Linked DNA regions of Homo sapiens. The protein of the gene in region 5 interacts with the protein of the main gene of each other region in a pairwise test. Each region holds a gene or a part of one and is shown on either strand. Other genes may lie near its edges.

Region 1 (3,500 bases), on a different chromosome or scaffold from region 5:
TGCATTGCTCAGAATTGCTCGACTTTGATTATAATTATCCTACGATCGATAAGGATCCAGGTGTACGTAACATAACACTGTATCACATTATTTAAATCAGGTCCTTTTCATTAAGCTGTGTCTGTTGGTGCTGGCTAGTTTATTGGTGTGTGTGGGTGTGTGGGGGTGTGTGTGTGTGTGTGTTAGAAACTTGTAACTATAGTTTCAGTTTTCTGGCCTATTATATTCCTACTGTCTTTGTATGTTTGTTTTGTATGATTCTTATTATTTTCACCAGAAGCGGAAACCCTTTTTAAGCTGAAAAAGGATGATTCATTTCGTACACAGTGAGGGCCCTCTTACCTTATTTATTTGCTCACATATTAATAGAGGAGACAGTTTTTCATGCAGTGTTTCTTCTGTTCATCTAAGGTCATCAATGCCCTACTCTATTTCAGCTGAAGTGGTTATTCACAAGTAAAGTTAGCCACTTTGGGGTTCTGTAGTCAGTTAACATCCAGGGAAGGGGAGAAGGTGGGTTCTAAGATTATGGCCATACTAACTTTTATCACTGCTTAAAATTAAACACAATGCACAACTGTAAGTAATTACACCCAAGGACTGATGTTGAAAGCTTGATTTCTAGCTTGATTAATGAATAATGGGAGATAGAAAAAGCCTGTGAGTGGATCCGAGCTGAGGCTCTCCCGGAGCGCTCTTTTTCCCAAGAACTGTTCCAGGCAATTTGATTCCTTTGTATTATTAGTTATAAGTTCCATGTTTCAAGGAATCAATTACAGAACTTTCTACTAAAGCAGGTATCTAAACAGAATAAACAAGATGATATTGTAAGTGATGAGGAATTTTAGTCTTTATTTGTTATGTTCCTCCCCCTTCAGGGGGAAGGGATGTGAGGGGACAATTCTCTTTAAGGAAACAGCTAAATCAGAGTATTTCCCTCTGAAATGTCATTCTTCCTGGCTTTCTTAAGCTATGCTATTCCACCATACTATTACTTAGGGCAAGAAAAAAAAAGTTGAGAAAGCAGCCTACAGTACCCCAGGGGTTTGTGTTGTGTGTGCATGCTTGCTTCCTTGGATGTATATTTCACTCACCATTAAAATACATCCACTATTACCTGAAAATATTGCAGGATTCAGTACCAGCATTTTCCCCTTCTATGCATTTCAAGGGAGATAGAGAAAATGGCAGGAAAGTAAAACAGAACGGTGTTTTGATTTGTTTGCATTTTGCAGGATGCAGAGTGGTTAAAAATTTAAAATTGTAGACTTAGAATCTAACTCTTGATTTTCTACAGCCTATCTCAGCCTCTGTGCGCGCACATAAATAATACGTATTTTATTTCACCATACTGAACTGCTTTTATATTAATGACAGCCAATTGCAATAGAACACACAATCTTTTGTGAGCACATCTTGTGAATATATCTTTTATATATGTAAGTTATAGGATTCTGCCCCTGCCCACCCAAAGCAATTAGATGTTTCCCTCTTGCTGACTCTTAAAGGCTTTCTGATCACCCAGATCTGAAGAGTCTTGCAAGAAAGAACAGCTCCCTCAATTTATTTTGTTTATTTAATATGGAGATGAATAATGCAGATTTTGTTTTCATGAATGTCCTTGTGTGGCAGTAAACATTAGACTATTAGCAATCATTACTTAAAAGTTGCAATTTGCACCTTAATAACACAGGTTATTTACATGGGAAACATAGTCAACAGGGACAACTCTGAACACTGCAACAGAGCAGAAATGACCTCAGAGATCTCTTTTCCACCTCTTGATAGTGATGACTCTGAATTAACCGGTGAGGTCCCAGAAATCTCAACCAACAGGATGGAGGGAGGGGGCAGGCAGCTCAGGGCGAAGTTTACCTTTAATTTACTGTCAAGTGGGACAGCTTTCAAGAGACTAGGAATCGGGTAGATTTGGGACCCTTCCTCCCTCACTTTGTTTAAACATCCTTCAGAAAGACAAGTTCACATCTTGAATATTTAAATATCTCACGCGATGGATTCCTTCACTTGCCCAAAAGTATGTTTTTAACAAATGAATGGAAAAATACACACACACACACACACACACACACACACACACACACACACACACACGCATGGACACAATAAAGTCCAAAGGGTCTTAGCAGCACAAACTCTTTTGGCCATTCTTGTTACTTAAGGCAGATATCTGAAAAAGGAAGGATAGATTCCTTGAAATCGCTTGGTCCACACAACATTTTGGACGGAAATTGATTGCTTAAGTGGTCCTTTTCCCACCCCCGTCTTGATTTCCTTCTTCCACCTCTCACCTCACCCTTAAAGACTCAGACTGAATAGGACATCTCAAAAGCCCATTTGTTTTAGGCATTTATTGATTTCATTTTTAATCTGCCATATCAGGACACAATACGTTAACCCTAATCAGCAGATTACAAGTGACAGAGAGTTTAGTGGAAACTCTGTAAGGGAGCAGGGGCTCCGGGAAACTTCTTGACAATGAAAATCTTCTCTGAGGCTTAAGAGTTTGGATGCTGAAGATTACTTTTGGGGAGGGGAGAAACATTCCTCAGAAACAGTCTACATTTTTTTCTTCCACTTTACATTTCTTTATCTCCCAGTTGCCCATTCTACTGCTACACTTTGGGAATGCTTAACACCCAAGAAATACCTCCCAAGTATTTTTAGGAGGTCGGTCCCTGAAGCAGCTTGACTTTTGTCATAGTCTCCAACGGACGTTTATGCTTTCATTTCATCCCAGCTGATTTCTCATTCATTTGACGGAATTTCTCCAAAGGATAATACCTGAGTTGATCTGTTTCTTTTCCCAGGGCCTTGGGAATTGTGCTGTCCATTGAATGGGTTTTGGTCATGGGGGTGGGGGCACAGACTGAGCCTGGCATTTTTTAAAGCCATTGAAATGATGCCTCACTGTTCATCACTGCAGCTGAGCTTATCAAGTCAACCAAGAAGAAAACCTAGGCCCTGGTCACGTTTGTGCTATGCCTGTAATTAGCTGACACGAGGTAAATGTCCAAAGTCGACCTTCCCTTCCATCACTGTATTTATACTATCAATTTTATTTGGGAATGTCATGGTCTGGGAAGACTCAGCCACTATTTCGAAGGCAATGCCTGCTTCTACCTAGGTCCCCTTTAAAAAAACACAGAAATTGCCGAACAAATTCTATATTAAGACCAGGCATACACGGAGTATCATTTTCGTTTGATGCAAAGTCAGTTGGAAATACATTTAACTAACAGTTAAATAGTGTCTTGCATCGCTTCCCTGAAGCAGTGGTTTTTCATTACATATTTAATTACAATCAAACTGAACGACTTTTATTAAAAAAATCACAGTGGTATTAAAAGAAGCCTGGCGCACAAATAATTTTATTGCTTCACAAGTTGAGAACGCTTTTATATTTTTATTTCTTTGAGAGAAATTTATTTTAATTTTCTAATGTTGTGATAAATACAGACTATCTTTTACTGTAGTCTGTA
Region 2 (4,017 bases), on a different chromosome or scaffold from region 5:
GCAAGAGTAGGGGCTGTCAGTGTAGGCAGCATGCGTGTTGGGGTCCCAGTCTGGAAAGCCCAGGCTGCTAGGTCCAGAACCCACAGTCTCCGAGTGTGCTGGGAAGGGAGGGTGGCCTGCGTGTAAGAGGAGGGGCAGGGGCAGGTCTGGTTACCAGAGTTGGGGACGTCACATCCAGGGCTAGAGGGCCTGGCGTCTCCCAAGGTACTGAGAGTTAGTACTTCTGGGACACCAAGCTCCCGGGACCTGGATTCCTGGGACACTGAGGAATTGAGGGCCTGGACTCCTGGGGCACTAAAAAGGCTGAGCCTGGGCCCTGGGGCTCCGTAGGACTATGTGCATAGACTACTGGACTCAAGAGAACCTAGGAAATCAGACTGCTACTGAGTTCCAGCAAGAATGAGGGCCTACCAGCCTAGGCAACATAGCCAGACCCCGTTTCTACAAAAATTTAAAAAATTAGCCAAGCAAGGTGGCATCGCCTGTGGTCCCAGCTACTTGGGAGGCTGAGGCGGGAGGATCACTTGAGCCCAGAAGGTTGAGGCTGCAGTGAGCCAGATAGCGCCACTGCACTCCAGTGCCAGGGCAACAGAGTGAGATCCTGTCTCAGAAAAAAAAAAAAAAGGGAAGAATGAGGGCCTGACTCCCAGGTGTCCCAAAGTTCTGAGAGCTGCGATGTCTGAGTCCCTTAGGGAAGGGGGATGGGGAGGCCGGGAGCTGAGAGAACTTACCAGTCACAGCCTCATTCACAGATGGGGTCAGGGGCTGCTCTGGGGGAGGGAGAAATTGTCCCTGTAGAGACAAAAGCAAAAAGGAACCCAGGTGACTTTATCTGGCAGATTCCTCCGGGTCTGTCTCGGATCTATAAGACATTTCGGTCAGGACCACCCCTCTCATCAGCCCCGAGGGCCCGGCAAGCCGCTGAGTCCCTACGGGACAGCACGGGGCCTCCGGAGAGCTGTGGCTCCCTGGCCTCACCTGCACCCCGCCAGCGTCGGGCTGCTGCTGCTGGCGGCGCCTCTGCTCTTCCAGAAGCTTCTTCACGGTTTGCGTTGGGCAGTGGCTGCGCTCACCCCTGCTCACTGTGCGGGAGAGGAGAGGGGGAAGTCATCAAGGGTCCTTAAGTCACCTAAATGCCGCGGGGGTGGCGCGCGGGGAGTGGGTTTGGGCACCCTCCTCGCCCTCCCGCGCGGAAAAACTGGCACATAGATGCCGCCTGACTCCTCCAAAGCCATTAGAAGATTTGGGGTGGGGCATCCGCCTCCGCCGTTTCCTTCCTTTTGCTCCGCACTTTCCCTCTGACCCAACTTTCCACCACCGTCGCGGAAAGTGAGGAAGGGGGAGGAGGGCACCCCTCTGCAGCAACCACCCCACTTCCGTAAAAAAATTCCACCCCCAGATATCCAAGTTTTGAAGTCAGCGGGTTGGTGGGGGGCCGGCGCCAGGCGTCACTCCCTAGACTCACATCCAGGTTCCCAACATTTTTTTCCCTAGAACCTGACCCGGAAATCAGGAGTCCCCAGCGCCCCTCCTCGAGAAGTCAAAGGCCTCACCCCGGGCCGGGAGCGGTGGCTCACGCCTGTAATCCCAACACTTTGAGAGGCCAAGGGGGGCGGATCACCTGAGGTCAGGTGGCCAACATGGTGAAACCCCGTCTCTACTAAAAATATAAAAATTAGCCGGGCGTGGTGGCAGGCGGCTGTATATCCCAGGTGAGGCAGGGGAAACACTTGAACCCGGGAGGCGGAGGTTGAGGTTGCAGTAAGCGGAGATCGCGCTACTGCACTCCAGCCTGGGCGACAGAGAGAGACTCCATTAAAAAAAAAAAAAAAAAAAAAAAAAGGCCCATCCATACAGTCTCTTTTTCAGGCCCCAGGAATCTGGACCCTCAGTTCCTTCCTCTCTAGGACCTGGGAGCCCCAGTTCCCAAACTCCTTCCCACGACTCAGAAAGACAGAACCCTCACCCTTCCGAGCCTGGGTTCCGGCGGAGGAAGGGTTAAGTGGGGATTGCGCGGGGCGGGGGCGGGAGGAGGTGGCTCGGAAACAGCCCCGACGCGGCGCGCTGACGCCACGGCGCTCACGCAAGGGAATCTTCCATCCTCCCCTTCCCCCCAAGTCCTGTGCCCCAGGTGTCCTGCTCCGAGGCGGGGCGCGCGGCCGATCGTGGCGCTCGTGGAATCCCCGCGCAAGGGGAATTCCTGCTCAGCCCCGCACGGGTGGCCATCCGGAAATCCCAGGGCGGGGCAGAGGCAGGGTCACCGCCAGCGTAGACCCTGAGGCCAGGCTCCGGACCCTTCCCCACCGAGACCCACGCCGATTTTAAGCAACCACGCCCCCCCCCCCCCCCCCCGCACTCAGCCTAGTCCCTGCTTCTAGGGGTAGGAGTCTCGGTTGCCAGCAACCCCTAGCACCTCCAAGGACCCAGAGATCCAGCCTCCCAAGCCTCCCAGCCCTTGCACCCTCGGGGCCCTGCGATCCTGGATCCCCAGGCCCCTGCACCCCCAGGACCCAGAAGTCTGGGATCCCAGCCGCCCCTCTGTCACGATCCACGATCCCCTCCTCCTCCAAACACCTAGGGCCCTCACTCTCGGGATAAAGGACTGACGCTTCAGCTCCGTCCCTCAGGGCCTCGGGAGTCTTTCGATCCTCAGTCCCTCACTCTCTTAGGGGGCCGAACGCGTCCTGCCCGCGCCCATTACCTCGGGGATTCCGTGGCGTGGATTGCGGGCCCCCAGGGCCGCGGCCTCGGCGCTGCGCCAGCCTCGCTGTTTCCCCCGCGGAGCCGCCGCCGGGTCCCCGATCTTGGGTCCGGTACCCGCGAGTTTTTAAACTAGGGGTTATGGCACCGCCCAGTCCTGGGCAGGGCCCGCCCACAGGCCTGGGAGTCCCCGGGTCGCGCTCCGGCGAACGCAGTCCCTGAATGGGCGCGGCGGACTTGGGAGGCGGACTACTCAGTCCCCCCGGGAAGGAGGGAGCTGGGGTCCAGATCTTTGCTCTGAAGGAGCCTAGGGCACCGGGCTCCAAGAGGAGGGAGAAACCGGGGGGCCTGGATTTCTTTTCTTTTCTTTTTCTTTTTTTTCTTTTCTTTTTTTTTTTTTTTTTTTTTTGTTGTTGTTTTTGAGAAGGAGTCTCTGTCGCCCAGGCTGGAGTGCAATGGTGCGATCTCTGCAAACTCCGCCTCCTGAATTAAAGCGATTCTCCTGCCTCAGCCTCCCGAGTAGCTGACACTACAGGTGCTGGACACCATGCCTGGCTAATTTTTGTATTTTTAGGAGAGATGGGGTTTCACCGTGTTGGCCAGGCTGGTCTCGAACTCCTGGCCTCAGGTGACCCGCCTGCCTTGGCCTCCCAAAGTGCTGGGATTACAGGCTTGAGCCATGGTGCCTGGCTGGGGCCTGGATTTCTGGGTCTGTGTCTAAGGGGGTGCTGGAGGCTTTGTCTCCTGGGTCCTGCCCATGGGGGTAGGGGTAGGAGTGGGGATGGAGATGGGGTGGGGGCAGGGAGAATATTACTGGGTCCAGAGGGAGGCAGGACTGGGGGTCTAGACTCCCAGAGGAAGGGTCTGTGGGTAAGGGTATAGGGTGTGGCTCAATTTCTCCCTCTCCCCTACATCACCCTTTTTAGAGGTCTGGTTTCATTTACTCATTCATCATTTAAAATAATTTATTGCAGCAGAGGAGGCATTTTGCTGTGTATTGTGAACTAAGCAGGCAGGAATTCCCAGCCCTGGAGCTGGCATTCCAGTGGGAGGCCACTCTCAGTTTCACTTGGTGACCTTTCACAGCACTGACCATGTTGGCCCTATTTCTCCCCTGCTTGCTTGCTTTTCTATTTTATTTTATTATTACATTTTTATTGTTAGAGAGAGGGTCTCATTCTGTCGCCCAGGCTGGAGTGCAGTGGCAAAGTGGTGAGATCTCGGCTCACTGCAACCTCCACTTGCCTCAGTCTCCCAAGTAGCTGGGATTACAGGAGCCTGACACCATGCCCGGGTAATTTTTGTATTTTTGTAGAG
Region 3 (3,500 bases), on a different chromosome or scaffold from region 5:
GTTAAGTGATCTCTTTTTAAAAATACTAAACAGAATTTAAGATTTATCAGCAATAAGAGAAAATGAAGCATAAATCATTTTTCAAGGACATTTAGACTATACAGTGACATACAGGGACAGACATGTACAATTCGTGCATGAGGGCATGAGGCCACTCTACAATACTAACCAGGCTTTAATTAAAGGAAATGACAAAGGATTTTTTTAAAAAGTGGATGCTCTTAAAAAGGCGTTGAAACTACATTAGAAAAAATATATTAAAACATGGTACAAATAAATGACAATGCTGAATACATCACCATTAAAAAAGACCATTTTGAATTTTATGCAGATCTTCATGTCATGCTTATGATTTTAGCATCTTTCCAGAAATGCTTAACTCATAAAAATCTTGAATTTGATAAAACTGTTAAGTTCATACATTACTATAAAAAGTCTTATCACAGGAATTTTTATGGTGACAAGATATAGTTGTGAAGTACATAATACTGACATTTTATCAACTTTATAGGGAAAAAATGTTTCACTTGGACACACTCATTAAATAAGGTAGAAAAGATGATGTTGGTTCATGAAATTTAACCAAAATCTCTAGATTTTTAAGTGATTAACTGATAGTCACTCAGTTTTCCTTATGCTGTAACTTGCACGGTTGATTTTTTTAAACCAACGGGCAAAACTTTGTGCTTATACTCAGCAAATCTGAGCTCATAATCTGCTTCATTACTTCACACTCCCACCTCTCCCCCTAAGTTCACTAAATATGCCTGCCAAGCTATCACATTTACCTTCTTATTAAGACTTTTTTTTTTTTTTTTTTTTAAATAGAGACAAGGTCTCACTATGTTGCCCAGGCTGGTCTCGAACTCCTGAGCTCAAGTAATCCTCCTGCCTCAGCCTCCCAAAGTGCTGGGATTACAGGTATGAGCCATGACAACTGGCCTAAGACATCTTATATATAGATATAGATGATTTTCCTATAGGAAAGGGAGATGTTTTCAACTTCAAGAGTGACTGGCTGACTGCTTATTTGCAAACTCAAACCTACCTTAAAAACAAAAAACAAAAAACCCAAAAAACGGCTAGGCACAGTGGCTCATGCCTGTAATCCCAGCACTTTGGGAGGCCGAGGCAGGTGGCTTACTGGAGGCCAGGAGTTCAAGACCAGCCTGGCCAACATGGTGAAGCCCCTTCTCTACTAAAAATACAAATTAGCCCAGTGTGATAGCATGCACCTGTAATCCCAGCTACTTGGGAGGCTGAGACAGGAGAATTGCTTTAACTTGGGAGCCGGAGGTTGCAGTGAGCCGAGATCACAGCATTGCACTCCAGCCTGGGTGACAGAGCAAAAAAAAAAAAAAAAAAAATGGTGGGAGAATACTTACAACGAAAATAACTTACCTTAGGGACTTAAATCCTCAAGATCAAATTATACACCAGATCTTGCTGTGATAAGTCAACACACATGTGAGGTACAGAGACCACTGAGGTCAAATCATAGTACAGAAATAGTACAGAAAACATTCACCTTCCCGAATGTGAAAATGTTTTACTGCCAGACCATCAGCAATTTTTATAAGCCCAGGAACATTTACAAGAAGCAAATTAAAAAAAAAAAAAAATTCAGGCACAGTGGCAGATTTTCTTTAATAGATATATTTCAAACAGATACAACAAATTAAAAAATCTAATTCATGGCAGGTAAACATGGGTGCTCAAAAAGTTCCACATAGACATTTACACTTGGGCCATCAGTATTTCCCTCACATTCCCTTTTGTTAAGTCCCATCTTCGCAGTGGCAGTACAGGAGAAATCTCCACCGTCACCGCACAATCCACCAGGCGCATTACCACCTGAAGTGAAGGTCTCATCTCGAAGGTGCGCTCAGCCATAAAAAGAAAACATATTACAGAAAGGAAAAATAAGTGTGCTCTTCCCACCCGCAAAGCGGTCTCACCTTCAGTTCTAGCTTTCTTTACTCCAAAGTCTTCTGAGTCTTCCAAGCATCTCTTTCGATTTGTTCCCACACTAATATGATTAGGAAATACATTCTGATGACCCCCATTTAAGATGCCATTGTTATAGAAATGGTTCAGATGACAATTCTGGAGGTTCAAGAGAAACTGGGCACACTCTTGGAAACCCTGGGTTTGTGCAATGTCTGCTGCTGTCAGGCCACTGGCATTTCTCAGGCTGTACAACACAAAAACACTGAATTACACCCCATCCGCGTGCTAACCTGGTCTCTGCTCCTGCTGAACTGACTAGCTATCTGAAGGTGGTATGAAAGAGTAAACAAATTCATAGCAAATCTTCATTAAAGAAGTAGTTAATCAATCTAGCTCTGTAACTAACTTCTCTTATATACATTTGATTTCTAAGCAAGATTTGGGAGATAAACTAAATATGCTAAACTTCTAAAAAAGGCATCTTCCTATTTAACTTCTCAAAATCATGTTTTATGTTAGTCTGAAGAATCTAAATTTACGCTAACTTCAGACTTGAAACTGAATTCTATATTATATGCACTTAATTTTAATACCCATTCCTTTAGCGTGAATAAAATCATAACAAACAACATGTACTGAGATTGTCCATGGCATTCATAACTGTCTTCCTAAAAACAAAGCAATGGCTCACCAACGAGCCAGCCTTCATGCTTACATGTGACACTGTAAGTGGAAGTTTAGAAGGATGTCCTGACATTAAAAAGTAGCCTATCATCAGATTCCAGAGCTGAACAGCTGTGTTTTTCTGTCAGATTTTGATTGTTTTGGCCTTGCTTGGGAAAACCTGCAGGAGTATTGTATTTTTGGCATTGTAGAGCATTTGAGTAGTTGGTTCCTTTAAAAAGGCTTTGAATACTGTCCTAAAAACTCATCCCTACCACTCACAAGAACCAAAGTTTTACCTGGCTAATAGTACTAAAAAGGAAAGGTCTGAGACCTCTACAGTAGCTAAAACTCAGATTCAAGTAGGAAGTGATGGCAGAGTAAGTGAAAGAGCTGAATAAAATAGAGTAAGTTGAACTTGTAAACCTTTAGACACTGAATTAAAACTGAGGGATCAAAAGTAACTCCATGTTGAAGTTCCCCTGGAAGACAAGAATGTACACTGCTCTGTGAAATAAACCTGTAAAAAAGCAGACATCCTGTTAGCTGCAGGTTGATAAACAAACGGGAGAAGTACTTAACAGCAAAGACAGCTTCCATACCTGTTCAGCAAGCTACACTACATCCACAGCAAAAGCATGATGAAATCAAGGCCTTGTGCTGTGTCACTCAAACAACCACTCCAGAACCCTGATGCCTTTCTTGGGGTTACTGTTAATGCAAAAAAAAAAAAAAAAAAAAAAAACCCCGCATTTGAGAGTGAAAACTACAGAATTAGGGACAAATAATATTTTCTTATTTATAAGGACTGACAATAGCCTTGTATTCGTTATTTGCAGACATCATAGAGCTCTGACCTTGGAAATGAGAAGTGTGCATGGACACTA
Region 4 (3,500 bases), on a different chromosome or scaffold from region 5:
AAAGAGGAGAAAAATATATTTCAGATTTAATGAGTCAATTCATGTGCTAAGTTTTCTGGCAGTCTGAGTATTTAATTTAATGGCATCTCTGTATTACTAAGCACATTATATAATAACCAATGCTCAAATGACAAAAGGAGTCATCATGAATAGGCTAAATTACATTTAGAAAGCTTTATCCAAAAATAGGGAAAACTAACAATTTTCAGAAATATTTCACCAAAGATGTTAGGACCAGCACTCAAAAAAAGTAAATTCTAGTAACAAAAAAATTAATAATTTTCTAGGAATGCCAGATAAAGTGAATGTCTAAACATACAGAAATGACTAGTGCAGACTGAAATGTATGAGTATGAAAATCTGCCCAATCCCCCTGCAATTACAATGTACTAGGGTCCTAACATTCATTTAACATTACCTTTTGTCAGATGAAGTTAGAAACTCATCAGTTGAGAATACATAAGGTGGACTACAAATATGAAGCTATAAACTTTCCATCTTAAAGAATGGGTATAAATATCCCTAAGTGCATTTGTCACACATATTAAAAAACACAACCAGAGGAATACAAAATAATTACACAATTAAAATTTTTAGCCCAATATGTCACTTAGAATGCCGTAAAATCATACTTGGAGAACTTAGGAAATGTTTTATCTTCATATGTAACTCTAGATTACCTGAACAAACTGTTAGCATACAACAGAGCTACAAAAATAAAAACACCTGTGGTCATGCACAAGAATTAAGAGAATTAAATGAGACAGCAAAGGCAATTTGGATAGCATCTGGCACACAACTATTTCTCTTTTTCCATTAATTAACTGCAGATTTTCCAAAATTAGTGGACTAGGAAAAAATTGGGAGGTTGGCCCTAGGGTAAGCCTCTGTGAATAGTGAATTCAGAAATGACTTCTGAACACTTTGTCTAATTTTCAGAAAGAATAAACAATTCTTCCTAATGAACCAACAATAACAAAAAGAAAGACTTTTAAACCTATCTTTTTTTTGAGACAGTCTCTCGCTCGGTTGCCAGGCTAGAGTGCAGTAGCGTGATCTCGGCTCACTGCAACCTCCACCTCCTGGGTTCAAGTGATTCTCCTGCCTCAGCCTCCTGAGTAGCTGGGATTACAGGCGTGCGCCACCACACCTGGCTAATTTCTGTATTTTTAGTGGAGACGGGGTTTCACCATGTTGGCCAGGCTGGTCTGAAACTCCTGACCTCGAGTGATCCACCCACCTCAGCCTCCCAAAGTACTGAGATTACAGGCATCAGCCACCATGCCCGGCCAAATTTTAAAGCTATGTAAACACTGAAAGGGAGAAAAAGTTTAAGAATACAAGGAAAATGAATTAGATAATCAAAAGTTAAAACCTTTATATATCACATACACTCTTCAGGTCTAATTTTTGAGGTAGGCTTGCCTGAATTACTAAAGGTTTTTTCAGAAGCTTGGAGAATTACTGTACATAAAGAGTACACTAGAATGAAAAAATTATTAAAAGGGTATATTTAGCATTTCTGTAACGTCCAATGATAGAAAAAAGGAAATGAATAAATGTCTATATTTACTGTTGCATTACATTACTTTTGAAATGTCTATTCTAGTAAAGAAAATACAGATATCAAAACCAAGTAAGCTAGAGTGCATATCCCATAAAAATGTAAAAAAAAAAAAAAAATCACTTATGAAACTGGCACCACATCTACAAAGAAAAGATTTATTTCAGGTAACCCTGATACACAATAATTTGATTATACATTATTTATTAAACTTTTATGTTCAGGGGTACATGTGCAGGTTTGTCATATAGGTAAACTTGTGTTTGTTATATAGGTTACTCATGTAACAAACAAATATTTATAGATACCTGCACATGTACCCCTAGTTATGATTATACACCTTTGGGATAAAAAAAAAGTGGCAGAAAAATCTTAGTGTCATCTGGTAGCCTTGTTGGCAGTAACACTACTTTCAAACTACTATGTGTATGTCTATATTGTATGAAAATGAAAAGCAATCACGTTACTGTTTTCAGTATATGAGAACACAAGCAAATATAAAAATCAAAGTAGCTAATTTCTTTAATAATACTTCATATTCATTTTTTTCTGTTCAAAATGCACATTTTCTAGTTTTGTCCACTAAAAATTCCTAGACTCGACGAAAACCCAAGAGCAAAATGAGAATCTAGTACCCAGACTGAGTTCTCTAGATACCATACCCCAACTGGAAAAATGGCTGATTCTCAGATTGGAGGGAGGAAAACACAAGATTTGTCTGGGATATACTGGGCCAAAAAGCTAAGTAGCTCTCAAAACTAATGTGACAGGGAGGCAACACAGGTCTCCCACCGTCCAAAGATGAAACAATCTACACTTCAAAAAAAGAAAAATGCAACTGACTAGAAGTAAAAATCCATTAATCCATAAATACTAAAGAAACTGAAGGAGAAAAAAAAAAGGGAGAGAGGGACAAGGGAGGAGAAGATGAAGAGAAATGAGAAATCTCTCTTTGGTCACTGGGTATCACTGGAAATACCTATAGATCTCATGACTCTGAGAAATGGCAATTAAAGAAAAAAATAGCATCTACCCTGACTTTGCTGTACCAACCACACTTCAAGGTAACTAAGTACCATTACCTGATTAAGGAAAACTTTTTCTTCATTTAAGTTAAGAAACATGGAAGGAATTATACATTTAGAAAGATCACCACTCTGCAACTAATAAAAAGTAGATCTAAGAAACAATGATCAATGGATGAAAGGAAATGTTTTTAATGACCAGGTTCTACTGTTCCACTAAATGTTCTGATCAATCTTAACATCATTAAAAGGGGAACAAAACACCAAGAGTGAATCAAAATGCAAACTAAGGACTTTGGGTGATAATGATTTGTCAATATAGGCTGGCTAATTGTAATATACGTACCACTCTGGTGGAGGATGTTGATAATGAGAGCCTGTGCAAGTGTGGTGGGTGGGGGCTTATGGGAATCCTCTGTACTTTTGGCTCCATTTTGCTGTGAACCTAAAAAACTGCTCTAAAAAATAAAGTTTTACACCGCCCCCCCCCCCGCCCCGCCCCAAAAAAGGTGTGGGGCAGGAGGACAAAAAGGCACTGCAAGACTTCTGATGTGATAGATAATACCAATCCTACAGCATTTTGCTTCTCAAGTATTCTTGCTAAAACAGGTGAACCGGAATCTAAGCAAGCCTTTGGTGCTAACTTCCATTTTACAGGAAATGCAAAGACAGTAATTTCAGTACCACAAAGAAGCAAAAAACCAAATCCATTATTTAAGCTCTTATATACAGAATGAACTGTTTCTTCAACAAGTCATGAAGCATTAAGAAAAGGAAGGGAGGACTGGGGCAGGACTGCACTAACATTAAGACATTTAATACACATAGCAAAACAAAAAACACACAAATAGGATGAGAGGACCTTCTCTGAATTTTGACTAAAATAAAACCAATCATAAGAGTTTAAGACA
Region 5 (3,500 bases):
TGCACCCCCTGCCCAGTGGTGACAACCCAGAATGTCTCTAGACTTGGCCAAGAGCCCCCTGAGGAGCAGAGGTGCCCCCAGTCCAGAACCTGTTGGAGGGTGGGAGCCCCATGGTGGCCTGCAGGTGTGCCACTAGTTCCTTTAGTCCAAGGAAGGGGCCAGGCACCATCAGCTTCCGGCACCAGACCCTGCTGTGGGGGTGCCTAGAGAGTTAACCTCACTCTCCTGGTTTCTTCCCAAGAAGGCGGGTGGCATGGGCTTTTTCCTGCTCTGGGCCTGCTCTCTCCCCTGTCTTGGTGTCGCTGTCCTCAGTCTGCATGAACCATTCCCCCTTTGTGTGCCCCTTGCAGCCAAGACACAGCCAGGATGGGTGACTTGAGCCGGAGGCACCTAGGAGAGCTGCCCTTGCTGCGCCTGGCAGGGGGCAGTGTGAGGCCATCGCTTTAAATTTTTTTTTTTTTTTTTTTTTGAGACAGAGTCTTGCTCTGTTGCCCAGGCTGGAGTGCAGGGGCGCAATCTCAGCTCACTGCAACCTCCGCCTCCTGGGTTCAAGCGATTCTCCTGCCTCAGCCTCCCGAGTAGCTGGGATTAGAGGCACCTACCACCAGGACTGGCTAATTTTTGTATTTTTAGTAGAGACAGGGTTTTGCCACGTTGGCCAGGCTGGTCTCAAACTCCTGACCTCAGGTGATCTGGCTGCCTTGGCCTCCCAAAGTGCTGGGATTACAGGCATGAACCACCACGCCTGGCCACTTTTTCTTTTTTAAAAAATGTTTAGAATTGTTTCTGTAGAGTCGTGGTCTTGTTCTGTTACTCAGGCTGGTCTCGGACTCCTCTCTTCAAGCCTCCCACAGTGCTGGGATTATAGGCATAAGCCATTGTGCTGGCCAGGTGGTCCCTTTTCTGTTCTACTCTCTCCCACCCTCATGCCTCCAGGATGAGCTTCTGGCCTTCTAGAAGGAATGAACTGGAGGAGGCCCAAAATGGCCTCTCCTGAGGCTGATTTGAAGGAATGTGGGGTGTTTTTCTTGGAGTGGGGAAAACTTAGGTATGCGGTGGTTATCTCCAGATACCTTTTGTTCCCTAAAGCTTTTTTAAAAAAATGATTATTGTGGTAAAATATACAACAAAATTTGGAGACTTTAACTGTCTCTAATTGTGCCATTCTGTGTTACTAAGTACACTCACATTGGTGTGCGGCCATGACCACCAGCGGCCCCAGGATCCCCTCCTCAGTTGAGGCTCTGGACCCTTCAGCAACAGCTCCCTGTCCCCTCAGCCCCTGGTGGCTGCCCTTCTACCTTCCTCCCTCAATGAGTGACTGCTCTAGAGACCTCATGAAAGAGAAGTAAGGGGTAGCTCTCCTTTTTTGGCTGGTGTGTTTCTCTTAGCGTGATGTCCTCAAGGCTCATCCAGTCCCCAGATTGCTCTAGGTGGCCACCTGCAGTCAGTGACAGGCTGGTGGCTTTTCATGTCATGGAACACACCACCACTGGAGCATCCAGCCGAGGCAGAGGAAGGAGAGGTCCCAGGGGAGGCCAGCCTGGCCTTGGGTTGCCTCTGAGCCCGGTGTTTCCCCCTGGAGTGCCTGGACTCTGAGCAGGCCTCGGCTTGTCATGGGCTGCTGGCTCAGCTGGGGCTGATGGCCTTTCCTCCTCAGCACCCTGGTTGAACCCGCTTCCTCTTCTTTCCCAGACTGTGGCGTCCTGGAGTTGATGGGAGCTGCAGCACCAAGCCGGGCCAGCCTCCCTCCCAGCCAGTGACAACACCGCAGCACCTGGACCCCGCCCACCCGCTTGAGTCCTCTGCCTGGGGCCCCAGGGATGCGCCTCCTCCTGAAAGTCCCCTCCATCCTCCCTTAGAGGAACAGGCTGCCGCCGCGCCCCCATCAGCCTCCATTGCCCTGACCTTATTTCCACCTGATGGTGCCAGAGGCTGCTTCCCAGCTGGTATCCTGAGATCCTCGTTCCCTTGGTGGCTTGGTTGTTTAAGCCTCCATTATTGATTGGGGGCGGTGGTCTGGGTGTGATTCCTGTGGGGGAAACCAGCCCGAGGTGCCTTGGCTCAGGCTTGCCTGCCTGGAGTCCTTGTCGTGTACCCGTCTGTGGCCCTAGAGTCACCTCCTGCTCCTTTTCACTGGGTTTCTCCCCAGACCAAGCCCCTGGATTTGAGCTTCTGAGCAGCCAACTGATTTTTTTCATGAGGGAAAGAATTTTGCTCCTAGATTTATTTCTAATCCTTTTCTCCGTAACTGACCTTTTCTCTGTAAGCTATTTGTGGCTCTAGTGGGTTTTTGTTTGCTTGCTTGTTTTTGTTTTATCTTTGCCCTGAACGTCCATCCTGGCCTCGGCTGCCTCCCTCCCCGAGTTCTTCACTACACCTCCTGTCTCAGCCTCCCAGAGAGGGTGGCGAGGGTGCTGATGCCCAGAGACACCATCCGGCGAATGGACCTCTCCTGTCATGCGGGGCAGGGCAGGGCTGCCGGCAGAGCCATGTCCTGAACCCTCCCTCCTCCCCCCTGCTCTCCTTAAGGGTCTTTCCCAGATGTGAAGGTCCCTCCCAGGCTCTACTGAGGTCAGACCAATTCCCAGTGGCTTGGGTACCCTCGTTCACTCCAGCACCAGCCCCTGCCCTCCTTCTTCCCGGGCCAGGCTGCCAGGTGAGCCCCGGGCCAAGGGTGGTTGCCCTGCTGAGGCCGAAAGGACTCGAGCTTCCCATCTCCTCGCCTCCCCCAGGTCTTTCACCGTCTGGACTCATCTCTGGGTAACTCATGGTGTGAGTGGCCACGTGGCTGGCTCAGGTGAGTCCTTTTAGACCCCAGGTGACCCACCAGCTAGTCCGGGGCCCATTGTTGTGCCCACTAGGATGTCCCCCATGGTGTCCTCCCTGCGCTTTAAAGTTCTCCTTCGTGTGCTGTTCTTCATGGCCCCTGTTCCCCCACAGGTGTTTGGACAGTGAACGCCAGGTCCCCTCCTCCCCACCCCCGGCCTCTCAAACACGCCCAGCCCCACGATGGCAGCAGAGACACTCAACTTTGGGCCTGAGTGGTGAGTCACTTGTGCCTCGGCTGCCGTGGAGATTCGAGAAAGCACAGTCAGGCTGCCCTGACCTCTGTCTTCTTCTCTCTGTGTTGTGTCCAGGCTCAGGGCCCTGTCCGGGGGCGGCAGCGTGGCCTCCCCACCCCCGTCCCCTGCCATGCCCAAATACAAGCTGGCTGACTACCGTTATGGGCGAGAGGAAATGCTGGCTCTCTACGTCAAGGAGAACAAGGTGGGTGCGTGGGCGAGGGGGGTTGGCGGTGGTGGCCTCTGCCTGTGGAGGGGATCTGGCAGCATGTGGTGTCTTGGCTGTCCCAACCCACTGCCAGGTCCCGGAAGAGCTGCAGGACAAGGAGTTCGCCGCGGTGCTGCAGGACGAGCCACTGCAGCCCCTGGCTCTGGAGCCGCTGACTGAGGAGGAACAGGTGGGACCGGGCCAGGAGCTGAGGCTGCGGGAGCCTG
Region 6 (3,500 bases), on a different chromosome or scaffold from region 5:
TCATCAATCAGCTCTCTCTCTTCTCTATGTTTGCTCCTGAGCATATGTATATGAATTCAGTTGAGGAAAGTATCCTCTGCTTTCAAAAATGTTTAACACTTAACCATTCTTCCACAGAGTGATTTGGTCAGATTCAGTATCAGACCATTAAAAGCTTACAGATACATAGATGGAGATAAAGGCCTGTCAAAGACAAGAATCATTTATGAATGTACATAGAGAAATAAGTTAAATTAATTTTTGGTTGGAGAAGTGGGGAAAGTAGCAAGAAGTTTGAAGCCCTAGAATAATTGTGACTGGAGAGAATTACTATATTTTGCAATCAGGTGGAGACAATTTTTGGAGAAAGTAGGATGTCTGGAACTATTAAATTGAAGGCTTGAATTAGGCAAAATCTGTCTGATAAAATGACTCTCTGTTTTCGCAGTCAACACAAAGAAAGACTCAGAGTCGGCCCCAGTCAAAGGCGGCACCATGACCGACCTGGGTAAGACAGGAGCCTCTTGGGCACGGCAGTCAGAGCCAAGGGAAGGGGAGGGCTCAGCTGCCCCCTTTTCGCTAGCCTGATGGGCTTTTGGTAGGGCTTTCTTGCCCCTCAGGAGGCTCCAGCCTTACATCTTGGTTTTTCTCTTTCAGATGAACAGGAAGATGAAAGCATGGAGACGACGGGCAAGGTGGAGCCAGTTTAGAGAGGCCCTACCTCTCTATGTGATTCTGATTTGTGATTATAAAGTTCATTCTGCCCAAACTTTTCACTGCCCAGACTTTACCCACTGTAGACTAATTCCAGCTTTGTTCAAAACTCTGACCCTTTCAGAGTCCTGGGGCCCATGACTGCTCAGTCCCATCACCCATCTTTAGTGTCCACATTCCTGGGGTGTGGGAGAAGCAGAGGGTTGCTAGGGAGGAAGCAGGAATGCTGAGTGTCCAGCAGCCTCCATACTCGTAGGATGAGGATGAGAACAGTACGGGGAACAAGGGAGAGCAGACCAAGAATCCAGACCTGCATGAGGACAATGTGACTGAACAGACCCACCACATCATCATTCCCAGCTACGCTGCCTGGTTTGACTACAATAGGTATGGTTGTCCCCAACTTCTCACTGAGTCCTTATTTCCCTGCCTCCAGGGGTCAACAGGCTGTTCTTCTCCCTGCCTCCTCCAAATAAGTTATTTTTTCCTCACCCAAATAGACCAGAGTACACTTTAGTTTTAGGGGAGCTCCTTGTGTCCTTTTGAGTCTTACAGCCTGTGGGATGTTCTCCCCAAGCTTCTAACTTCAGCAATTTCGAGCTCTTTTCCTTCTTTGCCTTCTAGGCTTTTCCTCCCTTTGGGGCCCCCATCCCTTCACCAATGCCTTCTTCTGAAACCATTCTGGCTTTTCTTGCAGTGTTCATGCCATTGAGCGGAGGGCTCTCCCCGAGTTCTTCAACGGCAAGAACAAGTCCAAGACTCCAGAGATGTAAGGAAATCTCATCTCATGATTCTCCTTCTCCCTCCTGTCCCCACATTCACCCTTCCTGATCCAGTAACATTCAGTTTAGCAAACATTTCTTGAGCATCTTCCATGAGCCAGGCACTATGCTAGGCTTACAAAGGCACAATATCTGCCTTTAGGCAGCCCTGGCCTAGCATGTAGACACATGTTCTTTAGGATTTGCCCAAGGGTGATATTAAGCATGTTCTATACATAACAAGTACCTACTCCAGTGCCTCAACTTCTTTTTAACAGGGTATAGAGCCTTTAAATCCATATTACTGATATCGTCTATACTGCAGATATTCCTAGCACAAAAGTTTTGATTAAAGTGTAAATTACTATTACCAGGCTGGTTCCTGAGAGTAGGTTTTAATAGAAAAACAAGAGAAGGAACTAATAGAAGACCAGTTTATATAAATTAAGGGATGGAGAGGGCTCACTGGGAAAGAAGTGTAGGAGCCACGGTGGCTCACGACTGTAAATCATCCCAGCTACTTGGGACACTGAGACAGAAGGATTCCTTGAGGCCAGGAGTTCAAGAATAGCATGAGCAACATAGCAAGACTCCCATCTCTAAAGAAGTGAAAAAAAATTAGCTGGGCCTGGTGGGGCATACCTGTGGTCCCAGCTACTTCGGAAGCTGAAATGGGAAGATTGCTTGAGCCCAGGAGTTTGAGGCTGCAGTGAGCCATGATCACACCACTGCTCTCCAGCCTGGCTGACACGGCAAGACCCCGTATCTAAAAAAATTAATGAACAAGGCTGGGTGTGGTGGCTCACGCCTGTAATCCCAGCACTTTGGGAGGCCGAGGCGGGCGGATCACAAGGTCAGGAGATCGCGACCATGCTGGCTAACATGATGAAACCCCATCTCTACTAAAAAGACCAGGCGCGGTGGCTCATGCCTGTAATCCCAGCAATTCGGGAGGCTGAGGCGGGCGGATCACCCGAGGTCAGGAGTTCGAGCTCAGCCTGACCAACATGGAGAAACCCCGTCTCTACTAAAAATACAAAACTAGCTGGGCGTGGTGGCACGTGCCTGTAATCCCAACTACTAGGGAGGCTGAGGCAGGAGAATCGCTTGAACCCGGGAGGCGGAGGTTGCAGTGAGCCGAGATTACGCCATTGCACTCCAGCCTGGGCAACAAGAGTGAAACTCCGTCTCAAAAAAAACAAAAAAACAAAAACAAAAAAAATTAGCCGGGCGTGGTGGCATGCATCTGTAGTCCCAGCTAGTCTGGAGGCTGAGGCAGGAGAATCACTTGAACCTGAGAGGCAGAGGTTGCAGTGAGCCGAGATCACGCCACTGCACTCCAGCCGGGGTGACAGAGCGAGACTCCGTCTCAAAAAAAAAAAAAATTAGCTGGGCGTGGTGGCAGGCGCCTGTAGTTCCAGCTACTTGGGAGGCTGAGGCAGGAGAATGGCATGAACCTGGGAGACAGAGCTTGCAGTGAGCCGAGATTGCGCCACTGCACTCCAGCCTGGGCGACAGAGCAAGACTCCGTCTCAAGAAAAAAAAAAAGATTTTGCCTCAGGCCAAACCTGCTTGGCTTTGGATAAGACATGGCAGTCTTCTTTGGTTAGGAATACTTCAAGATAACCACATTGATGAGGTGGGTGAGACTGAGAACTGAACAAGTTTTCTTCCCAGCTATTCCACAGCTTCCCCTCTCTGGGGGTCCCTCCGTGTTTTTTCTTCATAGCTTGCTATGGTTCTCTCTTCCTTCTCTTCCTGGAGAAAGCAGTATGTGTGAAAAGAAAGTAGTGATCAGGTGAAATGAATTCAACATGACATGCAGGCAGGGTTGGAGTAGGAACTGAACTCTTGGTATAAAATAGTAAATGATGGCTGGGCATGGTGGCTCACGCCTGTAATTCCAGCACTTTGGGAGGCCCAGGCGGGCAGATCACGAGGTCAGGAGTTCGAGACCAGCCAGGCCAACATGGTGAAACCCCGTCTCTACTAAAAATACAAAAATTAGCTGGGTGTGGAGGCACGCACCTGTAATCCCAGCTACTT
Region 7 (4,253 bases), on a different chromosome or scaffold from region 5:
GATCTTGTCTCTACAAAAAAACACAAAAATTAGCTGGTGGCAGGCACCTGTAGTCCCAGCTACTTGAGAGGCTGAGGTTCCCACCTCAGGAGGCCGAGGCTGCGGTGAGCTGAGATCGCACCACTGCACTCCAGCCTGGGCGACAGAGTGAGACCCTGTCCCAAAAATGCATAAATAGTAAAACTAGTGAGAGTGAATGAGAGATGGGATATGTAAAGGGAGTGGGAGGAGTTAAGGAGTAACTCCTCGGTTTCTGGCTTGTGTAAGAATAACTTCTGTGATTGGTGGGGAAAATCCACCAGAGTTCTGTTAAGTGTTGTTCATTTCCTGTCCCCCGTTAGGGGTTACCCCTTCCATCTTAAGCAGGATATTCTAGGATCTCTCAGTCTCACAGCCTTGCCCACCAATAACCAGCAGGTGAGCCCCCTCTCCCCAGACCTCTAGATCTGCAAAAGGCAACCTGGAGGCAAGGAAATCCCCAGCTGTGAGTAGCCATTCAATTCTGGTGCTGTGGTAACTGAGTTCAAAAACAATGAGTCTTGTTACCTACCCGTAAAATGAAAGACACCTCATCAGACACCTCACTGGATTGTGAGGCTCCAAGGAGCACACATATTGTTAGGCTCAGTTCGATTCCCTCCAGCCCTCTCCGCCCGTTTGAAGGCAGTTCCTTATCCCGGAGACAACGTACAGATGTTCTCTCTTTCCCTCTTTATTTTTTTTAAGACAGGGTCTCTGTTGCCCAGGCTGGAGTGCAGTGGCGCGACCACAGCTCACTACAGCCTCAACCTCCTGGGCTCAACACGATCCTCCTGCCTCAGCCTCCAGAGCGGCTGGGACTACAAGCGCGCACCACTGCACAGGGATTATTATTATTATTTTATTATTTTGTAGAGAAACGGGTGGGAGTGGTCTCGCTATGTTGCCCAGGCTGGTCTCAAACTCAGCTCAAGAGATCCTCCCGCCTCGGCGTCCCAAAGTGTTGGGATTACAGGCGCCTGCCACCGCGCCCGGACGCAGATATTTTCTATGGGCATCTGGAATGGCGTCCCCAAAGCTTGGCGCCGTGCTATGGTCAAGCCGGGTCGGGGGCTCGGGCCAGCCTTCAACACCGTTGGCAGCAATCGGAACGATCAACTGTACCCTCAGTACCGCGACCTCGCCCGGTCCTGCCAATGGCCGGCCCCTAGCCGGTCCTGAGGCCTCGCGAGAGCTCCCGTGGCTACGCCTTCCCCGGCCTCGGAACGGCCCCATCCTTCCTCTTTCCCCGCCTCCCAGCGGCGCTCCACTCTCGGATTGGCTGATTGATCCGAGTCAGTTTTTTTCCTCGCCAGAAAGCGGTTCGACAATTGGTCCTTCTTTTGGCCCCTCCTGCGATGCCCGCGGATTGGACGGCTGAGTCTGGCTACGCGGGCCTCCGCGGGAGCGCGACCGGGCCAATCAAGAGCTTGGCGTATTTTACAAACTGAGAAAGTAGCTCCAGCAGCACCCGAGAGGGTCAGGAGAAAAGCGGAGGAAGCTGGGTAGGCCCTGAGGGGCCTCGGTAAGGTAAGGCACGGGGGTCTTGAAGGGAACGAAGGCTGCTGGGTTCATAGGGAGGAGGGCAGTTTGGGGCCCGAGGGCGAAAGAGTAGGCTCGGGGTGTCTGGAGATAGCACCCATAAGAGCGGTCTTGCAGGCGCCGGGGGCTTGTGGGCGCGTGGATTAGGGCGGAGGTATCAGGGATGGCAGGACAGGTGCCCCGAGAACTGGTTGATCTTTGATCTTAGATTCTGCCTGCCTTCTTCCCCGTCTCAATTGTAGCCATCATGACCACCCGGCAAGCCACGAAGGATCCCCTCCTCCGGGGTGTATCTCCTACCCCTAGCAAGATTCCGGTACGCTCTCAGAAACGCACGCCTTTCCCCACTGTTACATCGTGCGCCGTGGACCAGGAGAACCAAGATCCAAGGGTAAGAGGGGCCTAATGGGGGAAGACAGTAGTCACACCAGTAATGCACCCCAACACTAAACCTCACCTTTTTGTCCCCGCTCCCTCCCCTAGAGATGGGTGCAGAAACCACCGCTCAATATTCAACGCCCCCTCGTTGATTCAGCAGGCCCCAGGCCGAAAGCCAGGCACCAGGCAGAGACATCACAAAGATTGGTGGGGATCAGTCAGCCTCGGAACCCCTTGGAAGAGCTCAGGCCTAGCCCTAGGGGTCAAAATGTGGGGCCTGGGCCCCCTGCCCAGACAGGTACCTGTTGGAGCCATGGTAACACGGCCTCCATGGCTGAGTAGGGGACTAGGAAGGGTAAAAGTGGGGTTTTGGGGTTTTGCACTCACTCCTGCTGTCTCCTACTTACTGTGATAGTCCTGGTCCCAGCTCCTGGAAAGCTCTTTGCTCTTAGAAGATCTCCCTTTCCTCCAGCAAAATGTCATCTCGCCAGGTGCCATGGCTTGTACCTGTAATCACAGCTACTCAGGAGGCTGAAGCAGGAGGATCACTGGAGGCCAGGAGTTGGAGACCAGCCTGGATGACAGAGGGAGATCCCATCTCTTTAAAAAATAAATAAATAAATAAATAATAAATATCACTTCTTCTGAAGCCTTTTCCAGTTCCCCATGTCACAATCAGTTGCTCTGTGTTCTCCTAATACTTTGCAGCACTTCTTTTATAACATGTATATACCTTGGCTTGAGTCTGTTACCTGTCTATAGTTTGATGATAGCCTCTTGAGGATAGGGGCTTTGTCTTATTCTTATGGGACCCCAGTGCTTAGAATAGTGTCTTATGTAACATTCTATGAACATTTGGTGACCAGGTGTGGTGGCTCACGCCTGTAATTCCAACACTCCTCCGAGGCAGGAGGATCATTTGAGCTCAGGAGTTTGAGACCAGCCTAGGCAACATAGTGAGACCCCATCTCTTTTTCTCTTTTTTTTTTTCTTTTCTTTTTTTTTTGTGGAGACAGAGTCTTACTCTATCCCTCAGGCTAGAGTACAGTGGCATGATCTCGGCTCACTGCAACATCCACCTCCCAGGTTCAAGCGATTCTCATGCCTCACCCCGAGTACCTGGGATTACCAGCACCTGCCACCACACCCAGCTAATTTTTGTTTTCTTTCTTTTTTTTTTTTTTTTTTTTGAGACAGAGTCTCACTCTGTCACTAAGCTGGAGTGCAGTGGCACGATCTTGGCTCATTGCAACCTCCACCTCCCAGGTTCAAGTGATTCTCCAGCCTCAGCCTCCTGAGTAGCTGGTACTACAGGCGCGCGCCACCAGGTCCAGCTAATTTTTTTTTGTTTTTGTTTTTTGTAGAGATGGGGTTTTACCATGTTGGCCAGGCTGGTCTCAAACTCCTGACCTCAGGTGATCCACCTGCCTCAGCCTCCCAAAGTGCTGGGATTACAGGAGTGAGCTACCGCACCCAGCCAATTTTTGTATTTTTTTAGTGGAGACAGGGTTTTGCTATGTTGGCCGGGTTGGTCTCAAACTCCTGACCACAGGTGATCCACCCGCCTCGGCCTCCCAAAGTGCTGGGATTACAGGCATGAGCCACTGCACCCAGCCATCTATTTCTTAAAAAAAAAAAAAAAAATAAGCCAAATTCAATTGAATGAGTCTCTTGCTCACCTTGTACCTCAAAGTTCCTATGCTAGGGGCCCTATCCCCCTCAGCCTTCCCCCTTCCTTTTCCTTCTCCTCTTTCCTTGCAGAGGCTCCAGGGACCATAGAGTTTGTGGCTGACCCTGCAGCCCTGGCCACCATCCTGTCAGGTGAGGGTGTGAAGAGCTGTCACCTGGGGCGCCAGCCTAGTCTGGCTAAAAGAGTACTGGTTCGAGGAAGTCAGGGAGGCACCACCCAGAGGGTCCAGGTAATGAAACAGGATGTGAGGAGACCAGGCTAGGGGGCACTGAGGGGGGCATCCTGAGCAGTGCTGACAGCCTCTGTTGGTGTCCCAGGGTGTTCGGGCCTCTGCATATTTGGCCCCCAGAACCCCCACCCACCGACTGGACCCTGCCAGGGCTTCCTGCTTCTCTAGGCTGGAGGGACCAGGACCTCGAGGCCGGACATTGTGCCCCCAGAGGCTACAGGCTCTGGTGAGTGCCCTTGAGGGGCTGATAGTCGGTGCTTCTGGGAGCTCCTTCCAGGGACAAAGCTGGGCTCTGGGAGAAGAGGTACCTCATGATGAGGCAAGGGATCCTACTGGGGGAGATGGGGTTGGTGGTGAGGCCTGAGGGTTTGGGGTCCACCTCTGATTCCGTTTTCA

Evidence for each region.
Region 1: the proteins of GIGYF1 (region 5) and TSHZ2 interact in binary tests that used the Homo sapiens proteins (3 or more experiments, as listed by UniProt).
Region 2: the proteins of GIGYF1 (region 5) and NFKBID interact in binary tests that used the Homo sapiens proteins (3 or more experiments, as listed by UniProt).
Region 3: the proteins of GIGYF1 (region 5) and ANKRD10 interact in binary tests that used the Homo sapiens proteins (3 or more experiments, as listed by UniProt).
Region 4: the proteins of GIGYF1 (region 5) and SCAF8 interact in binary tests that used the Homo sapiens proteins (3 or more experiments, as listed by UniProt).
Region 6: the proteins of GIGYF1 (region 5) and SMARCC2 interact in binary tests that used the Homo sapiens proteins (3 or more experiments, as listed by UniProt).
Region 7: the proteins of GIGYF1 (region 5) and TROAP interact in binary tests that used the Homo sapiens proteins (3 or more experiments, as listed by UniProt).

What each region holds. Positions count from the first base shown.
Region 1 is NC_000020.11:52,975,358-52,978,857, forward strand, and holds part of TSHZ2 (teashirt homolog 2), read left to right. Parts: intron 1-3,500. UniProt on the Homo sapiens protein: Probable transcriptional regulator involved in developmental processes. May act as a transcriptional repressor.
Region 2 is NC_000019.10:35,897,741-35,901,757, forward strand, and holds the start of NFKBID (NF-kappa-B inhibitor delta), read right to left. Parts: upstream 2,801-4,017; 5' UTR 2,763-2,800; coding exon 2,702-2,762; intron 2,004-2,701; exon of another isoform or gene 1,967-2,003; intron 1,083-1,966; coding exon 979-1,082; intron 793-978; coding exon 732-792; intron 117-731; coding exon 1-116. UniProt on the Homo sapiens protein: Regulates the expression of IL-2, IL-6, and other cytokines through regulation on NF-kappa-B activity. Functions in the regulation of inflammatory responses.
Region 3 is NC_000013.11:110,891,070-110,894,569, forward strand, and holds part of ANKRD10 (ankyrin repeat domain-containing protein 10), read right to left. Parts: intron 3,325-3,500; coding exon of another isoform or gene 3,279-3,324; exon of another isoform or gene 3,134-3,278; coding exon of another isoform or gene 3,040-3,133; exon of another isoform or gene 2,195-3,039; coding exon 1,959-2,194; exon of another isoform or gene 1,623-1,958; intron 1-1,622.
Region 4 is NC_000006.12:154,827,416-154,830,915, reverse strand, and holds part of SCAF8 (SR-related and CTD-associated factor 8), read right to left. Parts: intron 1-3,500. UniProt on the Homo sapiens protein: Anti-terminator protein required to prevent early mRNA termination during transcription. Together with SCAF4, acts by suppressing the use of early, alternative poly(A) sites, thereby preventing the accumulation of non-functional truncated proteins.
Region 5 is NC_000007.14:100,687,751-100,691,250, reverse strand, and holds part of GIGYF1 (GRB10-interacting GYF protein 1), read left to right. Parts: intron 1-1,695; 5' UTR 1,696-2,659; intron 2,660-2,735; 5' UTR 2,736-2,800; intron 2,801-2,943; 5' UTR 2,944-3,012; coding exon 3,013-3,047; intron 3,048-3,140; coding exon 3,141-3,270; intron 3,271-3,367; coding exon 3,368-3,463; intron 3,464-3,500. UniProt on the Homo sapiens protein: May act cooperatively with GRB10 to regulate tyrosine kinase receptor signaling. May increase IGF1 receptor phosphorylation under IGF1 stimulation as well as phosphorylation of IRS1 and SHC1.
Region 6 is NC_000012.12:56,175,984-56,179,483, reverse strand, and holds part of SMARCC2 (SWI/SNF complex subunit SMARCC2), read left to right. Parts: intron 1-427; coding exon 428-487; intron 488-636; coding exon 637-674; intron 675-949; coding exon 950-1,080; intron 1,081-1,390; coding exon 1,391-1,462; intron 1,463-3,500. UniProt on the Homo sapiens protein: Involved in transcriptional activation and repression of select genes by chromatin remodeling (alteration of DNA-nucleosome topology).
Region 7 is NC_000012.12:49,321,802-49,326,054, forward strand, and holds the start of TROAP (tastin), read left to right. Parts: upstream 1-1,453; 5' UTR 1,454-1,548; intron 1,549-1,802; 5' UTR 1,803-1,807; coding exon 1,808-1,951; intron 1,952-2,043; coding exon 2,044-2,236; intron 2,237-2,345; exon of another isoform or gene 2,346-2,353; coding exon of another isoform or gene 2,354-2,473; exon of another isoform or gene 2,474-2,587; intron 2,588-2,690; exon of another isoform or gene 2,691-2,775; intron 2,776-3,699; coding exon 3,700-3,857; intron 3,858-3,945; coding exon 3,946-4,083; intron 4,084-4,253. UniProt on the Homo sapiens protein: Could be involved with bystin and trophinin in a cell adhesion molecule complex that mediates an initial attachment of the blastocyst to uterine epithelial cells at the time of the embryo implantation.